2 linked regions of the Homo sapiens genome follow. The protein of the gene in region 2 interacts with the protein of the main gene of each other region in a biochemical or structural test. Each region holds a gene or a part of one and is shown on either strand. Other genes may lie near its edges. The genes, in order: TBC1D30 and STX3.

Region 1 (16,796 bases), on a different chromosome or scaffold from region 2:
TGCTTTAAAAATATGATGTCTTATAAATGAGACTAAATACATAATCATTTGCCTCATAGTTGGCAGCTACATGAATCTGTCACTTGACATGGCTCTAACCTGGAGGAAATGCTATCATAGGTCATTACAAAGGTGTGGCAAACACCTTGGAAAAGGATGAGACATCAAGGAAGAGAAATTATGGTTCCAATTTCTCACTCTCAGAAGAATGTCCATGGCCTTTGTCAGAGCCTGCTACTCACTTTCAGGGCATCCCCTTCATTGCCTTCCATCACTTCCAGAATTAGTGCAGCCAGGATGTTAAAGCCTTGGCAGTACCCAACAGTTTTGTTCCATCGGGCATAGGCCAGCAGCACCCGCTTCAACACAACCCTGTCCTGCTCAGCCTCCTGGCCACAGTAAGAACTACAGCCTGTGCGGTGAAGGTCCTAAATGGAAGGGAAACAATATTTTCAAAAATAACTCCTAATATTCTTTCCAAAACAATACCTTTTTTTTTTGACTCAATAAACAGAGTCAAATCATCGACATAAAATTTTTTTAAAATGTGTATGTTTTTATACATATGAGCCAAAATGCATTTTTAGCTTTCTTTTTCATAATATTTTGTAATATGCTGTTTAAGAGAGATTTGCAAGGGGAATTTCAGTCAGGCAAATTTTCAACTTAAAACGTTTCCAGGATTACCACAAAAAGTAGCTCAGAATTAACAATAATTACAGTATAATTTCATGTAAATTGATTGTTTTAATAATATTTCTCAGGTAAAACAATAGTCATCACAATACATGTATGATTGAGGCTAACATTCTTCCTTTCTACAAATAAAGTATAATATTTAGCTATCAAAACTCTAAATAACATAAAGGAGTGAAATCAAAATAGCAAAAAATGTGATTATAGAGAGAAAAATCATTCTATTCAAATTATTTTATGAATGTATATAAGAAAGACAGAAATATTTGCTATGCTTTAATGAAGGCAATATCTATAATTTAATTACTAAGCAGGAACTACAATTTTCAAGAGCTGAAGTCATTAACTGACACAGCATTCACTTCAATGAGAAAACAAAAGATACTCTTAAAAGATGATTGTTACAAAAGGTGCATTGCCTTAATTCACCAGTTAGACAAAAAGGAAATATTTCAAATATGAGATACTTCATCTCTGCGAAACATATTCTAAAATTCCAAATATATAGCTTAAATGTGAATAATGCAAAGGCTTTTTAGTACACAATGTAAAATTGCATAACTTTTTTAGCATTTGTCTGAAACCAAGTTAGAACAGAAAGTAGCTCATTTTAGTTAGTACTTCCTCCTTAAAAAAAAACCTCCAAATATGCCAAAACATTAGCCATCTTGAGGTGGCCAAAATTTGGATGAAACAACTTTCCTTTTAAAACCCCAGCTGAGTATCACACTGTAATGTACTCATATAAAATCAAAAACCATGTGCTAGAGCCTTATGTAAGAGGATAATACTGGGATCAAACAGAATCAGTATCCTTGGCTTTTAGCACCAGGCTCTGTTCAACTGTAATAATCCAGGTAAGCGAGCCACAACTGCCTACACAGCTGGCTTGAACCCACAAGTATTTGGTTGGAAGTAGGCCCCACCTGTGAACCTGTCTTTAGAAATTGGCAGTTAAGAAACTATCAAAGACCCTAATAAGAACCAAATCATTCTCATATGAAATATACTTAACTAACTTTTTCAATCAGTGACTTTTATATAAAAATCCAGTTGGCATCATTGACCCATGACAAAGCGTCCTTCCTATAGTGTGAGGAAGATTAATAAGTTGAATGTGAATGAAAGCTCATTTGCAAATATTTTCTTCTTACCGGTAACATTTAAATTTATGCAGACAACACATTGTCAAGGTTCCCCATGAAAAAGCTAATGAAATGAGAAGGCAGAAAATATACAGACATTCAAACCAGAAGGTAGAGATCATTTGATCCTCTGTCCAAAAAGCAACTGGCTTTTAGAGTCTTTCTTCTATATTAGGATGACAGGCCAAGTTCAGGGGCATTACCTTGACTATCTGAATTCCCATGGAGTCATCATCAGGATTACTCCTTTCATTGAAAGTGAAGCGCATGGTTTTGTCCCAGTCAATGGCTATACTGTGCAAATAATGATCTGCCAAGGTCAACCAAACCTAAAATATTACATAGACAAAGGAGAATGCCAAAGTAGAATATATAACTTCACCTTTATTAGAAAGTAGTTATTGCATTCGACAAGAAAATGGGAAGTGTCCCTAGACCAGCTATCTATCGCTCATAAGTAGAAATCTACAAGAGTCTCACTGAAATGTTTGTTGCACTGATTTGCACCATTTAGGGCCTTTCATTTACTCTTTCAATAAATATTTGTTGAGTTCCCACTATGTGTCAAGCAGCAATCCAGGCATTAGGGATACTGTTAGAAAGACAAACCAAGAAGATTTTCAAATTGTATTTCTGTTCATTGAATAACCTGTATAATCTCATAAGCTTGTTTTACTTGGCTCTGTATTGCTCTCCATACTTAGGCAAGAGCCATCTGGTCACTCATGGTGAATGGGGCTTTTTTTCACCATGGAGTGGCCTCTGCCTTTAAACCATCCCTCTCACACACATACACAAAACTGACAGATGGGCTCCCATAATGAGTAAGTTTTTTAAAAGAGCCACTGGATATTTTTACCCTTTGATTATCTTATCCAGAAAATCTGTTTCTGAAAGTTATATTTCATAATGTCATTTTCATGACTATTTTGAGGAACCCTCAATTTTCAAATTCTAGAAATATAAAGATTAGGCTTATAAATTAATATCCTAAGTGTGTATTTCAAGTTTTGGTATTTAAACATGATTTAGCAGAAATAAACATTGATTTATATATCCAGCCAGACTTCTCTCCTAACCTCAGAAGCATATATCCAAATGCTCACTTGATACCTTCAAATTAGATATCTAATAGGCATGTCAACCTTAACAGATCCAAAACCAATCACTTATTCCACCACCTACCCTACCTACACGTACAGACACACACACACCTCACCTACTCCTCCCATCTGAGTAAACAGTAATTCTACCTCCCAATCACTCAGGCCAAAATCCTGAAGTCATCTTTGACATCCCTTTTATACCTTATATTCAGTCCAAGAGGAATTCATGTAAGCTCAGCCTTCAAAATACGTCTAGGATTTCCATCTCCACTACCACAACCCTGATGCATCTGTTGCCTGAGCTACTGCAAGTCTCCTACTGGTCTCCCTACTTCAGCCCTTGTCTCTCATATTCTCAAGTCAGTACCCAGAGTAGCCCGTTCATAATAAAAGTCAGATCATGTCACTCCCCTGCTCAAAACTTCCCAGTGCTTCCTAGCTCACACTGAGCAAAAGCCCAAGACCTATGATAGCCCACCAGGTTCTCCACGATCTGCCACCCCTCAACCCACCACATTACCTCTATGACCCCCTCACCTATTGCTTCCCCCTTTGTTCACTGTGCCCCAGCCCCGCCCCACCCCATCTTTGCTTGAATACAACCCAGATGCAAGATGCTCCCGCCTGAGGGCTGAGGGTGCTTGCGCTGGCTGTTCCCTCTGCCTGGAGTATCTCCTCCCAGGTACTTGCATGGCTGGCTTCTCACCTCCTTCAGGGGCCTACTCGAATGTCACCTTGCTATTTAAAATTCCACCTCCTTACCCCTTTTCTCCTAAACGCTCTTTATTTCTCTCTACACTTTATTTTTATCCATGGCACTTATTACCATCTGACATACTTTATATTTTATTCATTGTAAGCTCCATGAGGACAAAAAACTTTGGTCTGTTTTGTTTTTTTCCATTGCTATATCCCTAGAACCTAGAACATTACTTGGCACAGAATAATCAATAAATATTTATTGCATGAATGAATAATCAAGACAGGTTTTCAAGTAACTAAACCTAGAATATATTTTTTGACATTCCAGAGGCTCTAAAGAAGGGCAGTGATGATCCTTCTGTATTCTAGCCCTATGAGTCCTCCTTACCTTTCTCCTCCATTCCTTTGGTATTCCTGTGGATAGCCTGGCAACTGCCTTGAGAGCATCGTACCACTAGGAACAAAGAAGAAATCCCAGGAGGTGATCACAGTGACCTAGATAAGCACTTTGCAATCTTTTTCCCATCTTGACATTCATAGAATGTGCTGAAATTTGCACAGCACAATGGGGTAAACAGTCAAAGCTTCTTTCAGACAGAAGTGATCAGTCCATGGCTATTACTGTGCCACGTCCCACCCCTTGGGCACCCTTAACACATCTGTGACCCCTTTGCAGTACAAACAAAATGGTTGGGAAGCTCTGGTTAATAAGCCAAAATATATATTATGGGGTTCAGAATAAAAGACATTATGGTACAGGTGTGAAATTTATTCATTTTAAAATTTTTCACACATGTACCATTAATAGAAAGTGCAAAATTTGTCACTGCAAATATAAACCCAGGCCACTTGTAGCTCAAAAGCTACTTTAACTGAAATATTGTTGAAGTGACTCATCTTCACATTCATATCAAAGAATACGTTATTTCCACTTTGAGAATATATCTCAATGTGCCCTGTTGGTAACCCCAAAAGAAGAGTGTTTTCAAAATCAAAGTTACCTGCTGAAAACCATTTTGACCTAAAGATGGCTCAAGAGTGAATTTCAACTTGGTATCAACTCCTGAAAGAAAAATACATAAATAGATGTTATTTTTGGAGACTATAACAAGTTATATCAAAAATACTAGTAAAAGCTTGATTCTACTGAATCATCACAATTTTTTTTAAAGTATGTATCTTTACTAAATTTTAGTCAATTTTGCCAAAAGGTAAGCATATTGATTCTTAAAATAGGAAAATACCCTACAGCAATAGAAAGTGCCTTACTACATATGACGGTGGTTTACATAGATGCCTGGAGTACCACAAAAGCAAAAACAAAAACAAAAAATGACACCACAGGCTTGGAGTCATACAGTCCTCCATTCGACTTGGTTCCTAGACTGAAACAATTTATCTAACCTATCTCAGTCTCAATTCCTTTTCTTCTTTTTAAGAGATACAGTCTCAATATATCACCCAGGCTGAAGTATAGTGGCTATTCACAGGCACAATCATAGCACAATGCAGCCTTGGATTCCTGGGCTTAAGCAATCCTCCCACCTCAGCCTCCCAAATAGCTGGGATTATAGGCACGTGCTACCACGCACAGCTAATTTTTGTATTTTTTGTAGAACAGGGTTTCGTCATGTTGGTCAGGCTGATCTGAAACTCCTGATCTGAAGTGATCCACCTGCCTCAGCCTCCTAAAGTGCTAGGATTACAGACATGAGCCACGGCACCCGGCCCCATTTTTTAAAGGAATTATTGCCCAAAAGTTCAAGGACCAAGAAATGCCAAATACTATCAATAACATTAAGTTTTACAAATTTCAAAAGTCAAATGATGGCATTTTTGTTTCTAAGATTGTTGATTGTAGATTAGGTGTACTAAAAACTTCTCCACAACTTCCACTTCTTAGTGGTTGGTATGAATAGGAGCAATCTTCAGAATTTATGAAATAATAGTAAGTAATCAAGTAGACTGGTCTTTTAAAAAATATATATATACACGGAGTCAAGAAGCTGGAAAGAGATGTATCTGATTTTTGCAAGCCCATATCAGTATGCAGGTGTTCTTGGAACCCTGGAAGAGCGCTGTAAATTCCTGAGTTGGGTCCTAGGTTTCCAAAGTAAGCTGTGGCAGAGAATCCCAGGCATCCAATCAATGCCTTGATATTTCTTTTTAAAGCTTCAGGGCCATAACCATACTCTGCCTGGATAGATAAGTTTTTTTTTTCTCCGAAGGAATATTAAGTACCACATGGATCCGCCTCTCTCTGAGGTGGTTTAAACGAAGTCCTGCCCAAACATAGAACGGTGATAACAACGGCCACGGGAGTGTTTCCAGCCCAGCGCACGCTTTAAGGCACGCTGAAAACAAGTGAGGTTGCTGTCCGGACGCGAGGTGCTGAATGGAGGAGCGTATAATCATGACGTTTGCTTGATAACAAAGACCAGGAAATTCGGTCCCGCGCTGACTTATTCTTGCCACACTACAAGGATTCCCTGTATGTCTGACCAATATGCTCTTCTGACTTTTCCGGGGCACCTGCTGGGCATCATGCCGATTGCCTTCTCATAGTGAAACCCAGCAGGGGTTAGTTGGCCAAAACCACAACTATCCTCTCATGATCAAAAATGAGCAAGAGGATTTAACTGAAATTGATTCGCCGCCTGCATGCAAAAGCTTAAACCAGGTCACTTTCACCCCACTTTTCTTTTCTTCTAACAGAATACGGGCAGAGAGAAGGTTTATGTTTCATCTGATAATCACAGCTATTCCGGATTCAGAAATACAAAACACTTACTTTTAACGTGGGAAGGAGATTTAAAAGAAAAAAAAAAGAGGTAAAGGAAGATGGTGAATAAATACTACAGCCTCTGCAACTAGACACTTCCTAGGGGAGAACAACAAAGAAACCACGAGGTTGGGAAAGGCAGTGCCGCATCCCACCCTTTGGGACTCTGCAGCTCGATTCTCCTGCGGCTCTACAGCAGGTCCCCAAGGCGCTGGCGCTGGGGGGCGGGGGCCGGGGACCGTGAACCCGCCTGGAACGCAGCCGGTGCCACTCCAGGGAACAGGTGAGCGCCAAGCACCAGTGAGAGTACAGCCAACTCCCTCTGCAGCCACTCCTTGCCAGAAACCTCCGTGCCCAGGAGCCCGCGCTAGGGCCAGGCTCTTAAAATCCCGGGGAGGGATGCCGGGTGATGGAGCCGACACGGAGTTATGCAGTCTGGAGAAGCAGGGATGGGTAAACACAGGCTGACAGTGGGAAGGGCCTTGCCTAGCACGACCAGGCTCGTTCCTGGACCTCACCTATGAAAAGGATCTCCTGCTGCTCCCCACTCGCACTCACAAATTACAGGCTCCAGTTCGAGCTGACCCCGGCACTCACGCTGAAGGGACTCTTGGGAAAATAACACCCGATTTTGCCTTTGCAGCCACTGTCTTCCTCCTCCGACCTGCAGTGTCAAACCTGTGCCACTCTCCGCCCCCACACACCTCTCGCAAGGTCTGGCTTCCTGCGAGCCTGGAACACAATAGGTGGTGCGGCCTCTGAGGGCCCGGGCAGCCACCCGCACTTCCCCGCCACGCGGAGAAAGCCGAGCACACAGGCCGCAGGGTGGGGGTCCGCGGGGAGAGGGTGGAAGCAGCGGGTTCTCCGCGCCTGGGGTGGCCGCTGCCCCACCCAGGCCCCCGTCTGCCCTCTACCCTTCCAGACCAATCGCTCCCTGCAGGTGCCAACGCGGTGCCCCGCACCAGGTGGCACGCGGACTTTCCCCAGAGCTCCCCGGCCTAGACGGAGTCAGGCTAAGGCAGAAGCGCGGGCAGCCCCGGCGCTACTTTACAGCGCCCCATCTGCAGCCCTGGGGTCCTCACCCGGCTCCAGGGTGCACAGCAGCCGGGGCGCGGTCCGGGAAATGCAGCTGCGCTTCTTGAGCACATTGCTCAGGATGGTGCCCACGCCGCCGCCCTGCCGCTTCAGGCATCTCCCCCCGCGCCTCAGAGACCCGGTCAGCTTGTCCTGCCGCATCCGAGAGCGCCCCGGGCTCTGGCACGGCTACCGTCCGTCTCGGTCCCCGCTACCCCACTCGCTGAGCGGCTGAGCTCGCGGAGCTGGGTGAGTGTCTGCGGCTGACCGGCCCGTGGGAGCAGGGAGCGCACAGCCGGCTGGTGCTGGAGGGTCACGGGGACTTACGGGGCACCGCGGGAGCCGCCGAGCGCAGGGAAGCCAGCAGGCATCTGCAGTGCGGAGCCTGCAAGGCTGAGGCAGGAGATCGCTCGAGGCGGGGAGGGCGGGAGCGAGCGAGCGAGCGAGCGCGTGGGAGACGGAGGCGGCGTGCCCGCCCCCAATCCCGGCACCGCCGTGCGCAGGCGGGGCCGCCCCAGCTCCCCCGTGCCCAGAAGCGCCAGAGACAGGGAGCCAGTGGGCGCGTAACTGCGTTCGGGGACCAAAAGCAGAAACAGAGATGTCCGTGCTTCTCCCAAGATCTGGGAGGGAACAGAGGGAGCACCAAGGGGCGCCAGTCTCAGGGGCAGAACACCCGTAAGGGCAAGCATCCTCTCCCACTTCCGAGCAGTCTCAGAAGGGGCCATGACCCAACCGCAGGCGGCGAGGCACACGCTTCAGCCCGAATTGCGTTGAATTATTTCCTGGCAGATTAGAGAGGCGCGGAGAAAATGAAGGAAAAAAAAATTATTGTTTCTTTTAGAAAAATGGGCTTCCAGAAAAAAAGTGTTCTCTTTTCAAGCAGTATTAAAAAGTAATGTTCCTCATCTCTCCAGCCAGACTTCAGTAGTTCTGAACTATTGCCCATCATTATGGTTTAAAAAAAAAAAAGTCATTCTCAAACGGCAATATTCACCAATAGACTATTTACCATTAAAATGGATGAAAGAAAGGGTGTGGGGGGGGGATATAAAGATACTTGTGTTTGCTAATATTTATAAAAAGAAACACTAAATGGATAAACCAAAAACAAATTAGAAAACTTGTATAGGAGAAGGAACATCGTGGAGGAGACAAGAATGGAAAACTGAGTCCTCTCTTGATGTGCCTCCTGTAGTTTTGGCTCTGGAATAACACTATATTAATAATATTAACAAATTAAATTTTTAAAAAACCAGGATGATGGAACAGCATGCCTATAGTCCCAGCTACTTGGCAGGCTGAGGTGGGAAAATTGCTTAGCCCCAAGAGTTTGAGGCCAGCTTGGGCAACATAGCGAGACCCCATCTCTTAAAAAGACATAAAAATAAAAATAAAATTTGAAAATACATAAAATAGTCTGGGCACGGTGGCTCACACCTGTATTCCTAGCACTTTGGGAAGTCAAGGCAGGAGGATGTCTTGAAACTAGGAGTTCAAAGCTGCAGTGAGCTATGATTGCACCCCTGCATTCTAGCCTGAGCAACAGACCTAGTCCCTGACTATAAATGAATAAATTATTTTTAAATTGTAAAAGAAAACCCTAACAATTGAAAATTAATGGAAACAAATCAACCTAATGGACTATCCCACTTATAGCATAAGAACACAGAAAAAAATAATTCTCTCTTAAGTTGACATAGAACACAATATTATGACTGTACATCAACAGTTGTACATATTCCCAGAGCAAATAAAACTGCAAAGAAACCTTACATTTCATTCAGTAGTATTATTGTTATTAATAATATTCATATTTCTTAAATTCTTATATCCACTACAGGATAAAGCAAATAAATAAGTATGCTAACATCAAATGGAGCCAAGATGTTTTCAGTGTAATAGAAAATATGTGTATAACCAAAGTAATTAAGTTTTCTTTAAAATATTACAATTATATATTTATATGGGAAACACTAGTATGAACTCATTTTTTTTTCTTTTCAAAAAAATACATACATTCATTGAATAGGTTTAGAAGTAAGGACAACTCAGCAGCAATGAACACCCACAGCACCCAGGTTATGGTCTCTAAAAACCATTCCCCACTCAAAGGAACTAAGGCTCCTTTGAGGAGTGACTGATTCCAGGTTTGGGACAGAAAAAGTACAAGATGACCCTGAAACATTTTGATGAGCTCAAAAAGAAAGGAAATGTTTCACAATTAATGGGGTCAAGTCAAAAAGACACAAGAGTCACATAAATAGGCTCCTTCCTATTGGCCAAAGATGAAACAATTTGAACTTGAAAAACAATGGCTGAGCCTGGACAACATGGCAAACCCCCATCTCTACAAAAAAAAAAAAAAAGCTACAAAAATTAGCTGGGCATGATGGCACACACCTGTAGGCCCAGCTACTCAGGAGGCTGAGGTGGGAGGATCACCTGAGGCCAGGGAGGTCAAGGCTGCAATGAGCCATTATCGCACCACTGTACTCCAGCCTGGGTGATGGTGAGACCCTGCCTCAGAAGTAAAAACAAAAACAAAAAGCAATTAATTGCTGGGTCAGGTGCTGTGGCTCAGGTCTGTAATCCCAGTGCTTTGGGAGGCCAAGGTGGGACAATCACTTGAGGCCAGTAGTTCAAGACTAGTCTGGGCAAAATAGCAAGACCCTGTTTCTGCAAAAATAAAATAACTTAGCCAGGTGTGGTAGTGTATGCCTGTAGTCCTAGCTACTTGAGAGGCTGAGGCAGGAGGATCACTTGAACCCAGGAATTCAAGGTTACAGTGAGCTATGATTGGCCACTGCACTCCAGCCTGGGTGAGAGAGCAAGACCCTGTATCAAAAGAAAAAAAAATGGCTGCTATTGATTGAAAAAATATTGAATATTTTTAAATGCCTTCATAAAGATAGCCTAAACAAGCCAGAAAAAGAAGGCATTCCTATGACGCTTCCCAGAATTTGAGGACAATGTCAGAAATGGTGCAACCCTAAGAATGAGCTGTAAAAGAATCTATTAAAAATGAGATGAGCCATCTGCAAAAGTAAAGCAGGCTAATAAAGGACATGCAAGCTATTCAGTTGTAGCTGCCTGGCAGAGGTAAAGATGCTTTCAAAAGGGCAGTACTCTTTGAAAAGGCATCACTTTAGAAAATGAAGTCACTGTTTAAGCTGGTCATGACTAATTGCTTGGCTTAAATTTCCCAACCTTTTGCTGCGAGCTCCGGTACAGAAATTTATCCTCCATCAACCATCAACTTTTTACAGTTTTGGTACATGTTTGTATCCTTCAGCTTTGTATTAATTTTAATAAGACACTCATTGGCTGTTGCAGCCTATCTCAGTTGTACTGAGAGCCATAGGAAGAGGTCTGATGCTTCCCTTTGACCAGTTTTTTAGAGGGCACAGTATACCCTGGGGCTGAAGATGGTGATGAACACCCGAAGTCAAAGAGAGGGAACTGGCAGGAGAGGGAAAATCCAGCAGGACAAGTTGGTAACTGCATGCACAGTCTCGTCTTCCAGACCTCTCATATGCTCAAATCTTAGAGGGTTTTGTGTTCTATTTTAACAAGAGAGGCTATTCATGCTCGGTTTCCATCACTAGGCAAGCCAAGAGGACAAGCAATCAGCTCTGTTCTACAACACTGTCTCTGGAGTGGAGAGGAGGACGTCCTGCCCCTGGGGCTGTGACATATGCCACTCAGACCATCCAACTCCCTTTGGCTCTGACGTCATGCTCACCAAGCAAACTTTGGATTGTCATTTGATTTCCCATATAGACTCTGCTGCAGCACAGAGAATATACTGACCAGTTAATAGCAGTCAATACCCCTGAGTTCACTTACCAGTCAGTAACCTGAAGACACCAAATTTCCAGACTGCCAAAGCTGACATCTAGACTCTAGGCTGTCAACTCACCCATGTGTCATGACTGATAAAAAGACCTCTCTTTAGATTCTTCTTTACTTGTAATACTTTTCTTTACTAGTAGTGACAGAAGCTTGTTTGCTTGCAAAAGGAACATTCAATTTCACCTCTTTTAGATCTATTACGAGGAAAATCTAACTCTGTTTTTAAAATAAAATTTAAGAGTTTCTGCTATGATGGCAATAAACAGCAAAGGAATTAGATAATATTATTTTGTTTACATTGGAGAGGAAAGTCAGGACTGCCAACTTTTATAGCAAACAGATAATTACATGAGCACTAAAACACAATACTCTAAAAGCAGCGATGGCCCAAGCCTAGTATTATGTTGATTGTGTGACTCACAGTTTTTTATTTCATGTCTGGAATATTGTTTTACAAACGTGAAAGATGTCATCTAAAGTCAACTTACAGAGAACTCAAGCCAGCATGGACTTTGCCTGAGAATCTCAGGAGCCAGGCCAATTTACCATTATTCTTTACTAATCAAGCTTTACCAATCAAATAATAGTGAATTCACATTTGGGCAAATTATACACTGCCACAGTCTACAATGGTTATGACTTATGCTGAATTTAGGGGAAGGAAGGCTTAATGAACACTTCACATTGGATGAGATAATGTTATTTGGATTGCTAAAGAAAATGAAGGCTTTGAGGAAATGCCCCGAATGTCACAGAGCTAATAACCTGAGGACATCCCCCACAGATGTGAGCTCCCAGGCTGAAACAAAAAAAAGTATGGACCATTCGGCATACCCTGCATCTTCAGGCCTACATGCTGGGAATGAGGTTTCCTTGAGAGCGAACTTTTCCTTTAATGGGAGAAGGGGGAAGAAGTCAGTAAGAAAAGAAAGCCCAACACAAGGAATAAAAACTATGTCCCAAGGGGCTTCCAGAAGGGGAAGTGGGTCTGAGACCTGTGATTTCCTAATGCTGCTATTTTTTTTGTTTAACAGTAAAGTCTTAAAATAAAAAGGGCCTACGTGCTTATCTTCAGGGACTGACAATTACCAAGAGAAAAGGCCCTGGAAGCCTGCTATGAGGAGAGAGAGACCACAGGGAGCCAGCCTGCTCTGGGGAAGTGGGCCTGGAACTCATCTGTACAGCTGCGGAGTTCCCTGGCAGGTGCTGATATGCACACAAGCTGAGCATCAGAGATCTCATCAGACCACCAGATCTAGTGCTGTCTCCCATTCGGCAGGAGATGGGGACATTTTGCACCTGTGATAATAAAAAGAATGGAGGTCTGGTGGCATAAAAGCCACTCTTCCTCCTCTCTCCTCATCCCACAATTTTTGAACATGTGTAAACAGCTCCTGAATAGTGAAGTGGCGTCTGCTAACCAGACAAGATCTGTGGCCTTTTCTACAAGAAGTTAACACTTTCCTCAGACCTACTAAAGTAGGGACTTAACAAGTAGTTCCTTCAAGGCCGAGTGCAGTGGCTCATGCCTATAATCTCAGCACTTCGGGAGACTGACCAGCCTGGCCAACATGGTGAAACCCCATCTCTACTAAAAATACAAAAATTAGCTGGGTGTGGTGGCGCACACCTGTAATCCCAGCTACTTGGGAGGCTGAGGCAGGAGAATCGCTTGAACCTGGGAGGCGGAGCTTGCAGTGAGCCGAGATCATGCCACTGCACTGGCAGCCTGGGTGACAGAGCGAGACTCCATTTCAAAAAAAAAAAAAAAAAAAAAAAAAAAGTAGTTCCTTCAATTCATTATCCAAGACAGAGTCCACAGACTATGAGCATTGTAACAGTTTCCCCCTCATGACAGAGATGAAGGGGCAGGGCAGCAGGAGGAAATTGAGGGGGAAGAAAAAAACTACAATTATTTGACAGATCACATTACCTACATGGGACATTTTCTATTTATATGATTTTCTTTTCTTAGTCATAAAAATAACTTCTCTATTTAAATACAGGCATCCTTTAAGACAATCAGGTGTAGCTTTTGTATTTTGTTAATTTTTGAGAAAGGACTCTATCAAGCATGGAACAGAGAGGCTTTAAAATTCCAACACCAAATCACACTCAGAATGTCATACAGAAATGTACTTAAAACTCTGCTGCCAGATCCATGTAACCTTAGATGCATAACTAACCAAAGATTTTAGATCTCATCGTATTCTTCTTGTCGTGGTATTTCCTGTTAAGTATTTTCTTGCTTCAAAATGACCGAAACTGACTCACTACTACTTGAGCTAGATTGATATTGACCATATAAAGACACCTTTATATTTCTTTTATTCATTCACTTATTCATGAAAAAAATCATTAATCAGATGCTGTGGGAAAGGCACGGTACTAAGAACTATGAGAGAGAAAATTATGAACACAGTACATACGCTACCCTCAAAGAGTTTACAGTTGGCCAGGTGCAGTGGCTCACGCCTGTAATCCCAGCACTTTGGGAGGCTGAGGCGGGCAGATCACGAGGTCAGGAGATCAAGACCATCCTGGCCAACATGGTGAAACCCCGTCTCTACTAAAAACACAAATACTAGCTGGGCGTGGTGGCACGTGCGTGTAATCCCAGCTACTTGTGAGGCTGAGGCAGGAGAATCACTTGAACCAGGGAGGCAGAGGTTGAGTGAGCCAGGATTGCGCCACTGCATTCCAGCATTCCAGCCTGGCAACAGCACGAGACTGTCTAAAAAAAAAAAAATAGTTTACAGTTTACTGAGTGAGTAGTGACAAGGACACAAGGATTGTGTGAAAGGTCCTTTAAAATACTATGTGAATAATTGGAGAGATACCATTCTTGCTACATCTTAAGTATTATATATGTTGCAATGTTTTCCCAGAGCTCCATTTCATTGAGCTACTAAATTTCACCTGAAAACAGGCCAAGGACAAAGCTCATGTATGCTCTTCTTACAGTTGTGCTATTCAGCTCTTTAGTTCCACATCAGGAATAGAACTGGAAGACTCACACTCATCACTGCAGAAGATGAAATAACTGTTTAACCTGGTCATGATGAACCATTTAGCTGAGATTCCCCAACCTTACACCAAGCCATTCTAAGATTTTTTTTTTTTTTTTTTGGTAGAGTCTCACTCTGTTGCCCAGGCTGGAGTACAGTGGAGGGATGTCGGCTCACTGCAACCTCCACTTCCTGGGTTCAAGTGATTTCTGTGCCTCACCCTCTTGAGTAGCTGGGATTACAGGTGCATGCCACCATGCCCGGCTAATTTTTGTATTTTTAGTAGACATGGGGTTTCACCATGTTAGCCAGGCTGGTCTCGAACTCTTGACCTCAAATGACGCGCCTGCCTTGGCCTCCCAAAGTGCTGGGATTACAGGCATGAGCCATGTGCCAGGCCCAAAGATTCTTTTGACCCTGTTGAGGAGAGGTATGAAAGGAGAGGTTTCTCATATCTATTGAGGTAGATTTAACTTAGAAATGTGTCCCTAGACAGGAGAAGGGTGATGAGTTCGAATGTAATATGCTTGATTTTGGTGATGACAAGAGGGAAGTACCGGAAAAGGAGAGAGATTGGAATCAACAATAATGTTGGTTTGGCAGGTCTGGAAGCCTTCGCTCTCCAGGTTGAGTTCATTCAGAAGAAACAATGTAGAACGTGTGCTCCAATGAGGAGACGTGTGAAGAGACACAGGTCAGGTCATCACCCCTGGTGAGACCCTCCAGGAGGCAACGCAGCAGACAAAGGTTAGAATTCTGATGCCAGTACTTGCTTCCTCTATGTCCTTGAGCAAGTTACTTAATGTCTGGGTTTCAGTTTCCTCATCTTTAGAATAATGATATTTGAGTTACGGTGAGAATTAAATGACATAATGAAAGTCATGGCATAAAGCAGGCGCTCAATACTGTCCTTTGATTAGTGCTTGTTGTTGCTGCACTAGAGGCTAAAATGGCGCTGTGAGCAGTCATCCCAGAGGTCTATCCAGCACAGGACCCAGACTCTGACCCACAGGGTGAGTCTGACTGGCCAGGATACCCCACTGAGGTCTTCGCCGCATACTCCTCTAGTGCCCTCACTCACTTGGTAGAAACTGTGAAATTAGTTTTGTGTTTGCTCCAAAGGACTAAGTTAGAACTGCTAAGTGGGAGCTGTGGTGAGGCAGATGTCAGCAAAATTTCAGAATGCTCTGTTGGGCATGGTGGCTCACACCTGTAGTCCCAGCTACTTGGTGGACTGAGGCAGGAGGATCACTTGAGAGCCTAGGATTTCAAGGCTGCATTGTGCCCTGATCACACTACTGTACTCCAGCCTGGGTGACAGAGCAACACCCTGATAGAAGGAAGAAAAGCAAGAAAGAAGAAAGGCAGGAAGGGAGGGAGGAAGGGAGGGAGGGAGGGAAAGAAAAGAGAGAAGAGAAAGAAAGAGAAAAGAAAAGAAAGGAACAAAAGAATGCTGTGACTATAATATAACATCCAGCCTCAGGAGATCATAAATGTCCTCTGCTTTGGAGTTCTCAGGCAAAGGCTGCAAGCCCAGCAGTCGGGGATGCTGTGAAAGGACATTTAAAATGAGGTGAGGCCAGACTAGCAATACCAGTAGAGCAGCTTCCAACCCTAGAATTCTCTGAGACCAATTTAACTGATATTCAGACAGTCTTATTACTCTATTAGAATTCCTCAATCCAATATAAATGTTGGCCAACAGCAATGCTTGGACAATACAGTTTGAGTTGCTGTGTTTTCAGATAAACTGAAATTTAAACAAAGAAATCCTTTTGGTGTCAGTCCTCGTTAAGAATATTTCTACAAGGTATTACACTCTCTTGACTTAAAAAGAGTATTCTGGGCCTGGATGCCGGGGCTCATGCATGTAGTAATCCCAGCACTTTGGGAGGCCAAGGCAGGCAGATCACCTGAGGTCAGGAATTCGAGACCAGCCTGGCCAACATGGTGAAACCCCATCTCTACTAAAAATACAAAAATTAGCCAGGTGTGGTGGTGCATGCCTATAATCCCTGCTACTTGGAAGGCTGAGGCACAGGAATCGCTTGAACCCAGGAGACGGAGGTTGCAGTGAGCCAAGATTGCACCACTGCGCTCCAGCCTGGGCAACAGAGCGAGACTCCATCTCAAAAAAAAAAAAAAAGTATTCTGAACAAATCAAATTTTCATATATTTATTAAGAACCTTAGCCTGAGCAACATGACAAAACGCTGTCTCTACAAACACTACCAAAAAAATTTGGCCAGGCATGGTGGTACATGGCTATCGTACCAGCTACTGGGGCGGATCACCTGAGCCCAGGAGGTCGAGGTTGCAGTGAGCCATAATCACATCACCATACTACCAGCCTTGGTGACAGAGTAAGACTCTGTCTCAAAAAAGAAAAAAAAAAGAATCTTACATTATCTTTACATCGTTATTCTCATTG
Region 2 (16,168 bases):
ACACCAAGTAAACGTCTCAGGTCAGTCCTAGCCAATGCGGGGAAGGGATTCTCTTTCTTACAATCTTCAGTGGCAAGAAGAGCATCCACAAACCTTGATGCATGGCCTTCCATAGGACACCCATTCACAGTCCTTGGTGGTGGGGTGGCAGTCACTTGTTCAAGAAACATTCAGTGAATTTTACTACTTCTCTGTGACCAGCACTCCACCAGGCATCCAGAACATACTATCTAGATACCTAGTAACTACCTATAAATATACTCTGAGATATCCCCAGACAACCTTTGTTATTTTTTTTACACTTAAGCACATGGAGAGGAACCAAAATAAGGATATCTCATTGTTATTAGGACATCACTAGGATGCTGGCCTCTTCCTGGTCATTCAGACCTGAATCAACATCATTCAGCCTGAATTGAGTATATTCACTAACTGCAGAAGAGTGCCTGGCACACAGTAGGTGCTCAATAACTATCTGAGGTGGGGAACATTTGCTTTCTCTAAGTTATTTCCAGGCCCTTTAACTGACAGACATTGGGTTTACCCAAGCTATTTGGTTATATTTTCCCTTCCAGACAGTGGTCTCTTGATAAGCTTCCCAACCATTTCCTAGCAATCACTTCCTGACAGGGAAGTTTGATCATTCCAATTAATCTTAGGCATTTTAGGAATTCTCCTCAACTACCCAACCCAACTCTATCACTTTATGGCAGTCTGTAAACAGAACAAGGCACTTACCACCACTTGAATCTCAAGCCAGTTCCTCGGCAAGGCAGTGTGGGGGAAAAGAAGAGGTGGGATGGAGGGACTTGAGAAATGGTCTCAGAGGCCAGTAGGGAATGGGGGGAAAGCATCCAGGCCCTCGGCAGGGAACCAATGTCAAAAACTAGTCAAGCTGTGCTCGAGCTTCAACTAGGTTGTGCAGTCTGCCTACTATGGAAGCAATTTTCTCTCCTATCCCAAGTGTCAGAGCAGCTGGAAGTTCATGGCAACAGTGCACAGCACCATGACCCTGTGGCACACTTAACTGTCCCATAAGAACTAGGAACCATCTAACTATGCGAAACTAGCGCCCTATGCAGGCAATCCAGAATTCTATCCCGAGCAAGCATGCCTGGGACAAAGTAAGCTGTCAAACTAGCACCACGAGTGTTTCGAGTCTTTCTGTCAATGCTATTTTGCTACTCCTTCATTCATGTTGTTGTCTGCTCTGTGCCTTAGCAAAAGGTGCCAAAATTAAAAAAAAATACAAACAGAAAAAAAATGGAAAAAAATAAAAATTTATGTTAAACCTGAGTCTTCCCTGTGAACTAGAGAAAAGATCACATTTTCAATGTCATCAGTGAACTAGTCCATATCAGGAGGCTGTTTTAAAACGTCACCATTAGGAGCCCGGATCTCTGATTTTTAAGAAAGAAAAAAAGACAAATCCTGGGAGGATTGCTTGATCCTGGGAGGTCAAGCTGCAGTGAGCTGTGATCACGCCACTGCACTCCAGCCTGTGCAACAGAGCAATACTCCATCTTAAAAAAAAAAAAAAAATCAAAAATCCAGGAAAACTGGGTACTTGACAGAACACATCAAACCCTGTATCAACTAGCAACGACTGCAAGGCCAAAGGGACAGGCAAGAATGACAAGGTTAAGATCACCCAAAGTGTCAACATTCAATTTGAATGCACACTTTCCCATGGGATTCTGTTTCTCCTTTATGCAAATTCCCAATGGTTCTCCCACCCTACCTCACTGGCTTCCAGTATTCCCTTTCTCCCTGTTCTCAGTAGACCCTGAGCTTTCCTCTCCTCCCTCCCCACGCTGGGACTCACTGCCACTTACCTGATTCTCCACCAGCATGGCGATGTCCATAAACATGTCGTGAAGCTCCTTGATGCTGCTCTCCAGCCTCACAATGTCCTTGTGTCGTCCCTCAATCTCACTGAGGGCTTGCTTGGAAATCTGTGAGTCAATGATCTACAACAGGCCACACACAGACTGTTAGCTACCCCTGCAAGAAAGGCTGCCCCTGCCACAGCCCTCATGCACGCTCCTGGGGAGCTCCTTGCCTCCCTGAACTCCCTGCACCTGCAGCTCCCCCTCCACCTGCTGGACTGCATGAGCTCCGCAGTGGCCTCCCTGCTCACGAGAGGGATGTGCTATCCGAGCACACAGGGCACTCACCCCAGAAGTGAAGATGGCCGGGTTGCCACTCTCCAACATCTCCTCCAGCTCCTCATCGGTTGTCTTTTTGCCAGCTTTGTAACAAAAGAAGTAGAGCGTCAAATATAAGATCACGGTGAAACACCATCTGATAAGGACCCTGAAAATTAGGAACGTGACTTCCCTATAAAGACCGTGGCCTTTACAACACTCCCCCAATTGCCTCCTGACTCATCTTATTTCTGCCCTAATCCAAGCCATCCTTAACACTATCAGCAGTTACCTTCCTAAAGCACTTATCTCATTACATTGCTTCCCAGCTCAGAACATTTCCTTGCCCCATTCACTACACTATGGTGTCCAAGGCCCTCATAACATGCTAGTTCATGGGCAAGCCCTCCCTCAATCCATCCTAACCTTATGCTACTCCAGACACACCCTTTCTCCAGACCCTAGACAACCTGCCACTCCTAAACACACTTGCTCTTTCTTGATTATGTTCATACCATTCCTCTCATCCAAAGCACCTTCCACTCCACGGGGCCCTGCCTTCCACATTACTACATTCCTAAAGGGTATGGCTTTATTTATTTCTCTAATCCTCCCAGCAACTTACACCATACTTTTATCCTCCCAGCAACTTACACCACACTTTTTATTTCTTAAATGTGCTTTGCTGTCAAACAGACAGCAAAATGATACAATGAGTCCACAAGAGAGCAACTGTTTGGCAAGCATTTCCCCTCTATATAGGAGACAATGCTGGACCCCATACAATAAAATTACTTGGGCCTGATAAACACGGTGTCACCTTTCAGCCTACAGCACAGCATTCGGGATGTGCCAGTGGTGCAGGAGCTGCCCTAGACTTAGGCACAAAATGTGCTTCCTGCTTGCTCCACCAGGGCCTCAAAACTTGGGATGGACAACCAGGTGGCAGGAAAGGTGGAGGGCACACGCCAAACCTCAAGTACATACTAATTTCGAGCTGCCGCTGGATTCGCCCTTTGCTGCGTTCTCGGAAGTCCACTTGAGCTTCATTGTATTTGGTCATCACCTCCACAAACTTCCGAGAAAGGACAGAGTGCTGTGGGATGATGTAAAATGCAGTCAGGCCCCAGTGGTTCTGTAACTGTTATAGAACCCCTCCCCACCCCCACATAGCCATCTACAATAGCACTGGACTTGGAATCAAAAAACCAGGTGTCAAACCAAGTTTTTTGTTTCCTAGCTTTGTGCCACTGGGAGAGTCCACTGCCCTTTCCAGAGCATGGTTTCAGCACCAGTTTACTGAAACCGGTTTACTGCTGACCTCACGTGGTAATTGCGAGGCCAGAGGTCATCTCTAAATCTCTGAGCCCTACATCCACATGGACTAGTAGCATTTTTCTGGCACAACACTTGGCTTGCATTCTAAAACTGTCAGATTCCCTTCCCACATGTCATACTTACCAAAGATCCTTGAGTTCTTACGCTAAACTCATCTCCCCAACTCTTCTTGCTTATAAGTAGATGCATTATCTCAACAGCCCTGCATGCCTAAGCTAAAACCTTCCTAATAATTTTTATTCCTTGCTCACCTCTCAGCATCAAGCCCTACTTACTGGTTTCTCCTTTGGAAAATCGCCAATATATATACTTTTTCCAAACCCACTACCACCATACAAATTTAGACCAAAACCCTTGCAAAAACCTAACTAGGGACCTTCCAGTTTCCTGCTTCTTTCCCACTTGTAAACGGCTTTCAAATGGCTACCATAATAATCCTCCTAATATACTGCCGCCTGAAGCAAATGCCTGTAAGTTATAACATCAGATCCAAATTCCCCAGACTGGTCCTCAAAGACCTCTAGAATGTGGCACTACATTATCTACTAAAAATTATGTGTCCACTATCCCACAGCAAACTTTTTTCTACAGAAAGCCTATTGTCTTCACGTCTGCCCCTTACGTCTACCCACCACCACTACCAACCACTGCTGCCAACACACACATATGTGCGTGCCTCACTCCTGCCCCTGTGCCTCTCAGAGAGGGGAAACTACTTCCTGAGGCTGCTCATGTTGGCACTCTGGCCCAGCCTCCTCTGGCTACCCCCCATTCTTCCTGAGATCTTTTGATGCTGAGAGCACCATGCATGTGTCTTCTTATCGCATCCTCCTGCTGGGTCGCATCCTCCTGCTGGGTCTTAGGTAATAGCTTTCCATGCCGCTTCAATGGCATGCCAGTTCTTTAAGGACAAGGATCCTATCTTTGATGACCCCTAAAGTGCCTAGCTCCAAACTGGACAACCAATGACTAACAATTGTTAGAAGACATTAATTTCCTCTCCTGTAAAACAAGAAGGCACGCTAAATCCTAAGCTGTGCTCTAGGAAGCCTGAAAAGCTCTTCAGGGGCCTCCTTAGAGAAGGAGAGTACAGGAGAGGAGCCAAAAGGGCTGGACTCTGGCCCTGACCCCTATTTCAACCTGGAGAGTTCTCCTTTACCAGGTCTTCAAATTGAGTTTCAAAATAAGGATTGTATTAAAAAAAAAAAATCCCTCCACAGTTAAGGGAAAACAATAAGAGATTGGACTAGCTAATCATGAGACCAGGAAAAGTCTTACCTGGGATTTCCGAATCCGAAGGTCTGCCGATGACCTGACCTCATCTTCTTCAATATGCTTCTCCATGCCTAAAGAGGAGAGGAAGGTTATACTTGCAACCTATCTCCGCCTCCAAGAAACATGCTATTCAGTGAAACTTCCTCACTCATTCCCACACATCCAGCCCACGGAGATGTAACAGGTAGGTGTCACCTCAAAAGGTCAGCTCCCAGATGAGCCACAGGACGTGCATTCCACAGCCTTTACGATGACCAGGTTTTGGCATAACAGTTAACAGCATGGGTTCTGGTCACCATGAGACTTAGGCTTGAATCCTTGCCCTGGCACTTACTGGGTGTGACTTTGAAAAAGCCACTTAACCCCTCTTAATGTACCTGTTCTCTCATCTGTAAAACAGAATAACAGTCCCTCCCTCACAATACTAATGTGAAGATTAAATGAGAAGACACATAAAGTGCCTAGCACAATGGCAGGTGCACTATCACTGTTATTACTGGAATCTGCTACTAATGACTCCTCCAGTTAAAATAGTTATTGCAATATACTTGGGGGGAAGAAATGGTAAATTGAGCTGAGCAATAATGCTTTCTCTTCTGATCAATAGCATGCATGCACCAAATACACTGGGCAAGAATGCAGGCTCTAGCAACAGAACTAAGTAAACCTTCTAGGCTCTGGAAGAACTGAATCTATGACAGTAGCTTCATTGAACTATACTCTCCCAAATGGGGGGAGTGAGGGTATGGGAAGGTGGTATGCCTAGCCCACCAAGAAATATCTGTAGACTGAATGATATCTCTTGCATTTATATATCTCTAAAATGACTATTCAAATGTATGTAGGTGGCCGGGCATTGTGGCTCAAACTTGGAATCCCAGCGATTTGGGAGGCCCAGGCAGGTGGATCACTTGAGGCCAGAAAAGTTCGAGACCAGCCTGGCCAACATGGCGAAACCTCGTCTCTACTAAAAATACAAAAATTGACTGAGCGTGGTGGTGCATGCCTGTAATCCCAACAACTTGGGAGGCTGAGGGATGAGAATCACTTGAACCCAAGAAGCAGAGATTGCAGTGAGCCAAAATTGAGCCACTGCCTTCTGGCCTGGGCAACAGAGCAAGATTCTGTCTTAAAAAAAAAAAAAAAAGTATGTAGTTGCCAGGGAAATAAGACCAATAAGAGAAAAGTTGATGGGCCAGGTGCGTCCCAGTTACTCAGGAGGCTGAGGCAGGAGAATCACCTGAACCCAGGAGGTAGAGGTTGCAATAAGCCGAGATCACACCACTGCACTCCAGCCTGGGGGACAGAGTGAGACTCCGTCTCAAAAAAAAAAAAAGAGAGACAAGTTGAAAGACTAAGTTAAAGGACCAAGTCACAAAACTACTCAGCAGCTGAAAGCACATTTTAATTCTCATCTCCTAGCTTCAATTCTGGACTCTTTCCAGTACAGTCAGGATTTAAGAAAAGGTAAATTTCTGGGGCTACAATGGATCATTGCGGGGACAGAGCCCAAACCACAAGCAAAGATGGACCAAGTGGTGTCACTTCCATCAAGAGGAGTTTCAGTTCGGAAAGCTGGACCCTAGGGGAGCTGAGATAGATGGTGGTGGGGACGGCCTTGTTTTCTTTGTTCCCTTCTTACTCTTCAGTTTGTTCCGGACGTTGTTGGCCCTTTTCTTAATCTCAGTCGTGAGCTGCTCTAGGTCATCCTTGGTTTCTGGGTAAATAAAGGCAGGCAGAATCCGTTAGAAAGGAGAGGACTGATTCCTTTGTGAACTACAGCAATCATCATCAGAGGAGGGGAGCTTTATCGGGCATCCACTGCCCAGAATGGTATTTATCCCTACGCACTCCCCAGCATCTGTCATTAGAATCACAGAGTGCTTATTTTTTTAAAGGCATTTTCCAGGCACCCCATCTCAGTCTACAGAATAAAAATACCCAGGGTTGGAACCACAAAATCAGCTCTTTCAACCCTCCTGAGTAATCCTGCAGCACATAAAATTGTGGAAACTCTGCTTTTAGAGGAAAGAGCCTACCACGGGAGCTTCGGTTGAGAAGGTTCTAGGGAGCTTATGGGGAAAATAGATTTCAACCAAGGCTAATCAACTTAAAATGAGGCAAATATTTATGACATACCTACTACACACATCCTAGGTTGTATGGAGCAAACTAAGTGTTAGCTATAACCATTCATTCAAAAGCCATCCTTCAGCCCCTACTACAACTTTGGAACAGAGCTAGAAACTATGGAATCAGAAAGAAGATCTAGATTTTTCCTGCAAGGTGTTAGAGTCTAGTGGGAGACAAAGGAGAAATAAATCAGCAGCTCTAATATGCAGCGTGGAGTAAGGTATGAGTTCTGGTCAAGGTGTGCACAGCCTGGAGGGATCTGGAAAAGCCTCTAAAGATGGAGATGAGCAGGACTGAGTCTCAAGGACTGTGAGTTGGCCAGGTAGAGAAAGAGACTAAAAGCAGGAATTCCACGAGAAGAAACAGTAAGTAAAGGGTATGAGTGAACAGGAAATGCCTGGGGAACCAGACAGAGTTGCTCTGGCTGAAGCGTGGGAAGCAGGAGGAGGATGGCAGGAGACAGGCTGGCTGGGAAGGCAGGAATGTGATCAAGACAATGCCCATATGCTCTGCTAAAGTGTTCCCACTTCAGTCTTTAGGTAAGAGGGCCCATGGGAAAAATGAAAGAGTGGAATGACAGTGTCAGGCTTGTTCCCTGTTCTTAAGGAACCAAAAATATAGCCCTAAACCACCCGTGTCCAAACCGTGGAACGCACGGATTTTTTTGCTTATCTGTAGTGGCAGATATCAGGAAAATTATGCACAAACCTTTCTTTCAGCGCTTCAGCTATCGTTAGTGTTAGTGTATTTTATGTATGGCCCAAGACAATTCTTCTTCCAATGTGGCCCAGGGAAGCCAAAAGGTTGGACACCCATGCAAACAATTAGGGGAGAAAAAACGTTTGCCTAGGTGGTGGTAACAAACAGGAGTTTAGGGATAGAAGGAATTTCTGTGAACTCGAACCATTTTGGAACACCTCATGGAAAGAAAAAATGGACTTGATCTGGTAGGATTCAGAAAGAGGGCTAGGAAAAGCAGTTCAGGCTGGGGAAATAGTACACGCAGAGGCTCAGAGGAGGGACAGGGCACAGGGTATGTAAGCAGCAGTGGGAATCGTCGCCAGTCAGGAAGAGGGACTAGCTGGGAAACAGGAAAGTCTAGCTAAATGGTTGGAGTGGGACCATGAAGACAAAACCTTGACTGTGGCCAGGCAGTAGGAGCTCAGGTAAGGTAAAGGGGAGGGAAATGAGATAATATGTACACTAGTGCCCTGTAACTTGTACACTTCCCTACTGCTCACGAAGGGCAAGAAAACAAGGCTGGCTCAGCTCCAAGGAAAGGGTGATTGTTGGATGACTCAGTTCTAAGTAAACACTCACTTGGCTCTGGAATCGGTGCAGAGAGAATGATACTGTAGAGTTTCTTAGCCTCCTCTACATGTTCTGAGATCTTGTCAATGTTAAGCCGAGTTTCCTCAATCTATAATCAGAAAGACAATAACCTTCATCATCAAAGAGGAAGTACAGGTCCATGGCTGAGATAAACGTTTGGCAGAGCTGCTGGTGAAAGCTGCCCATCTTCTGGGTTTGTGGAAGAAGATAATGACTTAAAGTCCTCAGCTGCCCAGTGAGTACCCTTTCCATGGTCAGATAAAGTAATCTCAACAGAACAGTTGTTAAAAATCCATACTTGTTGCTCCCTAAGAGTAATACATTCACCCACTTTGGATGAAAGGATTCAGGCCAAAGTCAAGAAGAGCTAAGAAAAACCATGAAGAATGATCAGAGGGGGAGAATCAGCAGACCTTAGCAGGCAGAGCCTTAAAGCCCAAAAAGTGAGAACAGAAAAGAGTGAGGATGAAGGAGAGGGGAAAAAGGAAGGAAGGAAAGAAAGAAGTGAAAGGAAAAGAACAAACCTAGAGAGTGAAAAACACAGAATGAGAGGAAGAGAAAGACAGAAACAGATAGGCCAGGCGCGGTGGTTCATGCCTGTAATCCCAGCACTTTGGGAGGCCGAGGCAGATGGATCATGAGGTCAGGAGATCAAGACCATCCTGGCTAACACAGTGAAACCCCGTCTCTACTAAAAAATGCAAAAAAAAAAAAAAAATTAGCCTGGTGTGATGGTGGGCGCCTGTAGTACCAGCTACTCGGGAGGCTGAGGCAGGAGAATGGCGTGAACCCGGGAGGTGGAGCTTGCAGTGAGCCGAGTTCGCACCACTGCACTCCAGCCTGGACGACACAGCGAGACTGCCTCAAAAAAAAAAAAAAAAGAAAGAAAGAAACAGATAAAGAAAACAAGGAGAGAAAAAGAGAGATACTAGGCAATGAAGGTCTCAGGAGACAGCCCAAGCTTCTCTAGGACACATATGTTCTTGTACTAACTGATTTCCTCAGACGATCAGGACCCAGTAGCTCGAGCCACAGCCCATTTCTGCATATTTCTAAGGCTCCTGATTGTACAAGGCTGTGAGTATCATAAAATATTTCCAGCAGCACTTCATTCCCAGGTAGAACGCCACTGTCAGACATTCCTGTGTGAGCTTTGACTGCAGCCTCAGCTCCCCGCTTCATAGGTGCCCATGCCACTGGTACCACAGCCCTGCTGCAGTGGAAGCCTATGTACAGGGAGCAGGGCAGGAAGGAGAGACCTCAGCACCTGTAGGGTCTATCTGCTTCACTCTCAAAGTGAAGGGCACATCAACATTGCAACAATTGACAAACAGAAATCTTGTAAAATGTCATACAGTAGGATCCTAACATCTGAGATGCAACAAAAATAAAACTCAATGCATATGCAGCTTCCAGCATCCCTCTTTTCCTGTGGACACTTCACCTTTTTCAAAACCTGATTATAGCTCTTCATATTCAATAGAAAATAGGAGAGGCCAGGCACAATGGCTCACACCTGTAATCCCAGCACTTTGAGAGGCCGAGGCAGGCAGATTACTTGAGCCCAGGAGTTCAAGATCAGCCTGGGTAACATGGCAAAACCCCGTCGCTACAAAAAATACAAAAATCAGCCAGGCATCGTGGCATGCCCCTGTAGTCCCAGCTACTCAGGGGGCTAAAACGGAGGATCCCTTGAGCCTGGGAGGTTGAAGCCACAGTGAGCCATGATCATGCCACTGCATTTCCCGCCTGAGCAACGGAGTGAGACTCTGTCTCAAAAACAAACAAAAAAAAAGGGAAAAGAAAGAAAATAGGAGAAACAATACTTGAGCTCTCTAGCCCTCAAATCAGTACTTTTGCCACTGGAGCACAGGATTTTCCCCTCTATAAATATATTGGCTTAGATGTGCCAGAGTTTAAGAGTAGAGCTGCTTGCTGAAAGATGTAGAATAAAATTACAATGTAATAATATCATGGGAGTGTAAACATACATACAGGTAACTACCCAAATATTTGTGAAGCATTTTAAGAGTTTACAAAGCAACCTATAAGACTGGACCAGTACCATTATTCAAATGAGGAAACAAGTTTAAAGAAATTATAGGTCACATAGCTAGTGGTAGGGACAGCATGCAAATAGTGCCCTCCACACTCCAACTGGGAAGCTTTTTTCCATTAGATTGAAGAGTTAATTTTTTTAATTATCTGTACTGTTTAGCAGCATTCCAGCCCTACCCAGCTATAAAAAAGGCCTCTGTTACAACCTATGATACTCACTGATACAGTTTGGCTCTGTGTCCCGACCCAAATCTCATCTTGTAGCTCCCATAATCCCCATGTGTTGTGGGAGGGACCCAGTGGGAGACAATCGAATCATGGGAGTGGGTCTTTCCTGTGCTGTTCTCATGATAGTAAGTCTCACAAGATCTGATGGTTTTAAAAACAGGAGTTTCCCTGCACAAGCTCTCTTTTTGCCTGCTGCCATCCATGTAAGACGTGACTTGCTCCTCCTTGACCTCTGCCATGACCGTGAGGCTTTCCCAGCCACGTGGAACTGAAAGTCCATTAAACCTCTTTCTTTTGTAAATTGCCCAGTCTCAGGTATGTGTTTATCAGCACCATGAAAACAAACTAATACACTCACAGACTCTAGGGGTGTGACCACCTCAGAATCTACTGGCCCCTCTTAGAACTCATGTCATTGCATCACACCATGGTTTCCAGTTCCACCACATAACTGTCTTGCCAAAGCAATTACACTGTTTTACAGGATTGAGGGAGGGAAAAAGGCTTTCTAGAAGAAAACACACTAAACATTTTTAAATGAGTTTATCAAATTTTAAATTTTAACAAGTCATGAAGGACTTAGATTTTGCATGTTCAACAGATTGGTTGTCACAGAAATTCTCTCATCTGGAAAATTATTTTATAAACTGAAGAGTATTCTGACCCAAAGTTCAGTCAATGGTAGAAGCACAGGAAGAGATAGGAAGTTTCTAGGATGAGACTGGCAGGCCTCAGGCTCAGTGTCACTACAGGCATTTGGAGACTGGATGGCTGATACTCACCCTGCCCTATGCACAGGAGAACTGGTCCTGGGTGCTCTATCCGCAACCTGCCTACGGGACTTCCCAGGCCCAGGGAGCACTCCATTCCACCCCACCCATCCTCCACCCACTGTAGCTGGTCTCTTTCCTCTGACCGCATCAACCTTTCTATTTGGAGGCATTTCAGGGAATCTGATTTCACAGCAATTTAGTCAGTTCACCAAATAATCACAGGACCTTTTTGGGACCTCAGGATGGGCAAGTGGCCAACCATAGAGCTTTCTTTTTTTGAACTTCGTGGCTTTGCTTTTTCTTAGAAGTACTGGTTTTCCTCAAAGGTGACTTTCTGAGTATTTAATGGTGTGAAATGGCAGCTACATGTGGTTTCCTTTTGTGCATTTGCCACATAATCAAAAAATCATGAGGCAATTGCAGGGAAGGGGTATAGGAAACTGACAAGTGCCCAATCTAAAAGTTTAAGGGCTATTGCATGTGTTTGTCTGGGGTTAAGTATACTGACATCTAAAATTACTCTGCATATTCATATATTTAAGAACTAAAATTGACTAAACATATTCTTGTATCAGAAATGATGCTATGCACTTCACAATACTTCTATGAGGCTACCATCATCATCTCCTTTTTATACATATGAGAATATCGAGTCTCAAAGAAGTAGAGAAATTTACTCCAGGTTATACTGCAGAAAGAGGCAAAACTGAGGTTTGAACTCAGGAATACTAAATCCTGTCTCCTGAACCAGGTAAACGCCTAAGGAAGGCTCCTATATCTTCTCTCCCAAGTTCATGCATATTCAGCTCACATCAGGTTAATGTGCATGTTCAATCCACTGTTTTGGGAGAATGGATCAGTTGCCTTTCACAGAGATCATCCTTATTTCTCTGTCTTCTCACCACCGCTCCCTATAGAAAGCTTTTTACAAAATGAGCCCTCAAGAAGTATTGCTGACCAAGTGTTGACATCTAAAAGTGTTTTTTTTTAAATCACCATGTAAAATTTACAGCTAATATATTCCCAGTGCCTTCTCATTGCACATTGTTTATTAATTTTTTTTTTTTGAGACAAAGCCTTGCTCTGTTGCCCAGGCTAGAGTGCAGTGGCATGATCTTGGCTCACTGCAACCTCCACCTCCCGGGTTCAAGTGATTCTCCTGCCTCAGCCTCCCAAGTAGCTGGGATTACAGGCACCCGCCACCACACCAACCTTTTTTTTTTTTTTGTATTTTTAGTAGAGACAAGGTTTCACCATGTTGGCCAGGCTGGTCTCTAACTCCTGAGCTCAAGTGATCCGCCCACCTCGGCCTCCCAAAGTGCTAGGATTACAGGTATGAGCCACCAGGCCCAGCCTAAAATGTACTTTTCAATGCTTTGTTAGTAATACGGGAATCCAGATAATATAGGATTTAAGGAATTAAGATCAAACAGACCAGGTTCCAGTTTCTGCTCCATCTCTCTTAGCAGTTTTATGACCTTGAACGCACCCTGTAAGTGTCCCTAAGCACCAGTTCTCTCATCTGTGAAATGAGAATTATCACAACTCCCACTTTAGAGTTTTTGTGAAGATTAAATTAGACAATACATGCCAAATGTTTAACATAAAGTACATGTTCAATAAATGTTAGGTGATGACAATGATAAATACAAAAATGCCAGCAATTACTGCACATTTGTCATATGCCAGGTACTATGCAGTGCATTTACAGGCATGTCTCATTTAATCCTCATAGCAATCCTGTAAAAAAGTCTTAATAAAACAGTCTGACCTCATCAGTAGCCACCCAAGGAAATCTAAGGTCAACACCCAAGTCAATCACTCTACATGTTGGGCGTGGCCAAATATAATTACTATATTATACTAATAACTATAACTAAAAGGAAGGAGTTATTTTCGAGATCTGGATGGCCTCTTCCTTCTGGACCTAATTAGCCAGTGGAATCTAATTAAACAAGGAAAAGCAGAGAAAGTACTAGTTTGTGGAACTGGCAGGTTGCATGGGGTAAGATGGAAGGCTAAGCAAAAAAGCTCTGTTTATTCTCCCTAAGAATTAGTCTCGGCCTCTCCTAAACTCCCAGGTACCTTGTACCTCTAGTTGAGCATTAATTGCTGCATATTTACGTATTGAAAACTTATTGCGAGGTGACAAGAGCAATGTGATTTTAACTGTCAAATGATCCCTCCTTTTCACAATTTATACACCTTCACTTTCCCCAAAAAATGACAGAATCCCAAGCAGTCTTCATATTAGAGCTGCTCAGTCAAGTCCTCTTTAATTTGTTTGCTTCTTTGCTTTAGAAAACAAATGTTGCTCTCTGCACGCCAGCCCGCCCGCACCCACCATGGCCACAGTTCAGCAGCTGGAAGGAAGATGGCGCCTGGTGGACAGCAAAGGCTTTGATGAATACATGAAGGAGCTAGGAGTGGGAATAGCTTTGCGAAAAATGGGCGCAATGGCCAAGCCAGATTGTATCATCACTTGTGATGGTAAAAACCTCACCATAAAAACTGAGAGCACTTTGAAAACAACACAGTTTTCTTGTACCCTGGGAGAGAAGTTTGAAGAAACCACAGCTGATGGCAGAAAAACTCAGACTGTCTGCAACTTTACAGATGGTGCATTGGTTCAGCATCAGGAGTGGGATGGGAAGGAAAGCACAATAACAAGAAAATTGAAAGATGGGAAATTAGTGGTGGAGTGTGTCATGAACAATGTCACCTGTACTCGGATCTATGAAAAAGTAGAATAAAAATTCCATCATCACTTTGGACAGGAGTTAATTAAGAGAATGACCAAGCTCAGTTCAATGAGCAAATCTCCATACTGTTTCTTTCTTTTTTTTTTCATTACTGTGTTCAATTATCTTTATCATAAACATTTTACATGCAGCTATTTCAAAGTGTGTTGGATTAATTAGGATCATCCCTTTGGTTAATAAATAAATGTGTTTGTGCTAATATAAAAAAAAAAAAAAAAGAAAACAAATGTTGATGAAAAGGGAGGGAAAAGGCCACCTCAGTCAACCAAGCAATGGAAGTCAAGTCCCAAAAGCATTTTATCAAGACCAGGACTAATGTTTCAATTCTCCTTTTATGAATGAAAAGAAAAGAATGATCTCAGAATTATACTGACCAATGAAAACAAGTATTCTGAGACAATAATCTCAAGTAAATTAAGTGTGTTGGGGCTTTGCATCACTCAAAACTTAGTCAGGAAAGTGAAAACCTATCTAGTTATTTTAATCAAAGTAATATAATAAAGGGATTGTTTATGCAGGGATGGAAGCGTCAAGAAGCCAAACAGAAGTTTGCTGGGGCACTCTGAAAATTAGCAACAGCAGGTCAGAGCGAAAGAGAAGGAAGGCAGGGTCACCAGAGCCTAAAGCCAGAGCTGTCTGATGGGGACCAGACCATGGTGGAGTTGACCAGCAGAACTGGGACCATGGAGGCGGGGTCTATTGAGAAAGAGCTGAGGCCATGAAGAAGGCATGTCTGAGGTAGAGAGAGAAAGGAGGAAAACTATGGTCTCTTCCCTCCTCCTTGAGTCTTCTGCTAGTACCTCACTGTCTTAATCTGTTCAGGTTCCTGTAAGAAAAATACCATAGCCTAGGTGGCTTAAACACAGGATATATTTCTCACAGTACTGGAGGCTAGGAAGTCCACTGGCAAATCTGATGTCTGAGGAGGACCCTCTTCCTGGCTTGTAGACAGCTGCCTTCTTCCAGTATCTTCACATGGCTGAGAGAGAGATCATCTTTCTCACGTCTCTTTTTATAAGGGTACTAATTCGCCCTCATGACCTAATTACCTCCCAAAAGCCCTACCTCCAAATACCATCACATTGGCGATTAGACTCCAGCATATGAATTTTGAGGGGACACAAACATTCAGTCCATAACACTCTCCTTAGTCAAATATACCAAAAGCAATTGGCAGGGGAAGCTGGGAAATGTAGTTCCCTGTGATACAGAGAAGAGCAGAGGAAGGACAGTAGGGAATGGTCCTGAATGCAAATAGGCAAATGACTGGCAAGGCTTCCTGCCTGCCCCATTGGAAGAGCCCAGAAATGCAGAATCTACCAGTTTGCCTGGTAGGTCATTGTCATCCAATATTCTACTTAAAGAATTAAAAAGTATTTAACCTGCTAGATTTAATGTGTGGATTTCCAAGTTGGATTCACTTTGAGGTTCTTAGTTCTAACAAAAATCAAGCATACCTAGCAAATCCATATGCTTCAAGACTGGTCACCTCACAGCTCCTCCAGCCAGGTATTGCTCCACCCACCCCTCACCCCAGCCAGGCTCTGCTGCACTATGCCCACAATTTATCCACCCTAACTTCTCCCAGAACTGATTCAGATCCCCTCAAGCACTAGGACCACGTGTTGCTCAACTTAGACTACTTGATATTCATCACTGTCAAGCATGTGGGTTACTCAGTAGACATTTGCTGAATAAATAAATGAATATAAGTAACTGCAGGAGACAAGTATGCTTCTTATATCACTACAAATGGTCTGTTATACCACTACAAATGCATACTTCTTATGGACTGAATGTGCTCTCCCAAAATTAATATGTTGATGCCTAATCCCCAATGGGATGGTACTTAGAGGGAGATGGGACCTTTGGAAGGCATTTAGGTTGTAAGGGTGGAGCCCTCATGACTGTGTTTTGTGCACTTATAAGCAGAGGCCAAAGAGCTAGCTTGCTCTTTCCACCCTGTAAGGATACAGATACAGCAAGGTGGCAGTCCACAACCCAGAAGAGGGTCCTCACCAGAACCCGATCATGCTGGAATCCTGGTCTCGGACTTTCAGCCTCCAGAACTGTAGGAAACACATTCTTATTGTTTATAAGCCATTCAGTCTACGGTACTTTC

What was found.
Region 1: the proteins of STX3 (region 2) and TBC1D30 form a complex in vitro, tested with the Homo sapiens proteins (one study listed by BioGRID).

What each region holds. Positions count from the first base shown.
Region 1 is NC_000012.12:64,815,751-64,832,546, reverse strand, and holds the start of TBC1D30 (TBC1 domain family member 30), read right to left. Parts: upstream 7,901-16,796; 5' UTR 7,668-7,900; coding exon 7,514-7,667; intron 4,713-7,513; coding exon 4,651-4,712; intron 4,104-4,650; coding exon 4,038-4,103; intron 2,171-4,037; coding exon 2,045-2,170; intron 429-2,044; coding exon 243-428; intron 1-242. UniProt on the Homo sapiens protein: May act as a GTPase-activating protein for Rab family protein(s).
Region 2 is NC_000011.10:59,779,182-59,795,349, reverse strand, and holds part of STX3 (syntaxin-3), read right to left. Parts: intron 14,246-16,168; exon of another isoform or gene 13,599-14,245; intron 8,314-13,598; coding exon 8,214-8,313; intron 6,478-8,213; coding exon 6,403-6,477; intron 4,832-6,402; coding exon 4,764-4,831; intron 3,244-4,763; coding exon 3,135-3,243; intron 2,252-3,134; coding exon 2,178-2,251; intron 1,971-2,177; coding exon 1,836-1,970; intron 1-1,835. UniProt on the Homo sapiens protein: Potentially involved in docking of synaptic vesicles at presynaptic active zones. Apical receptor involved in membrane fusion of apical vesicles.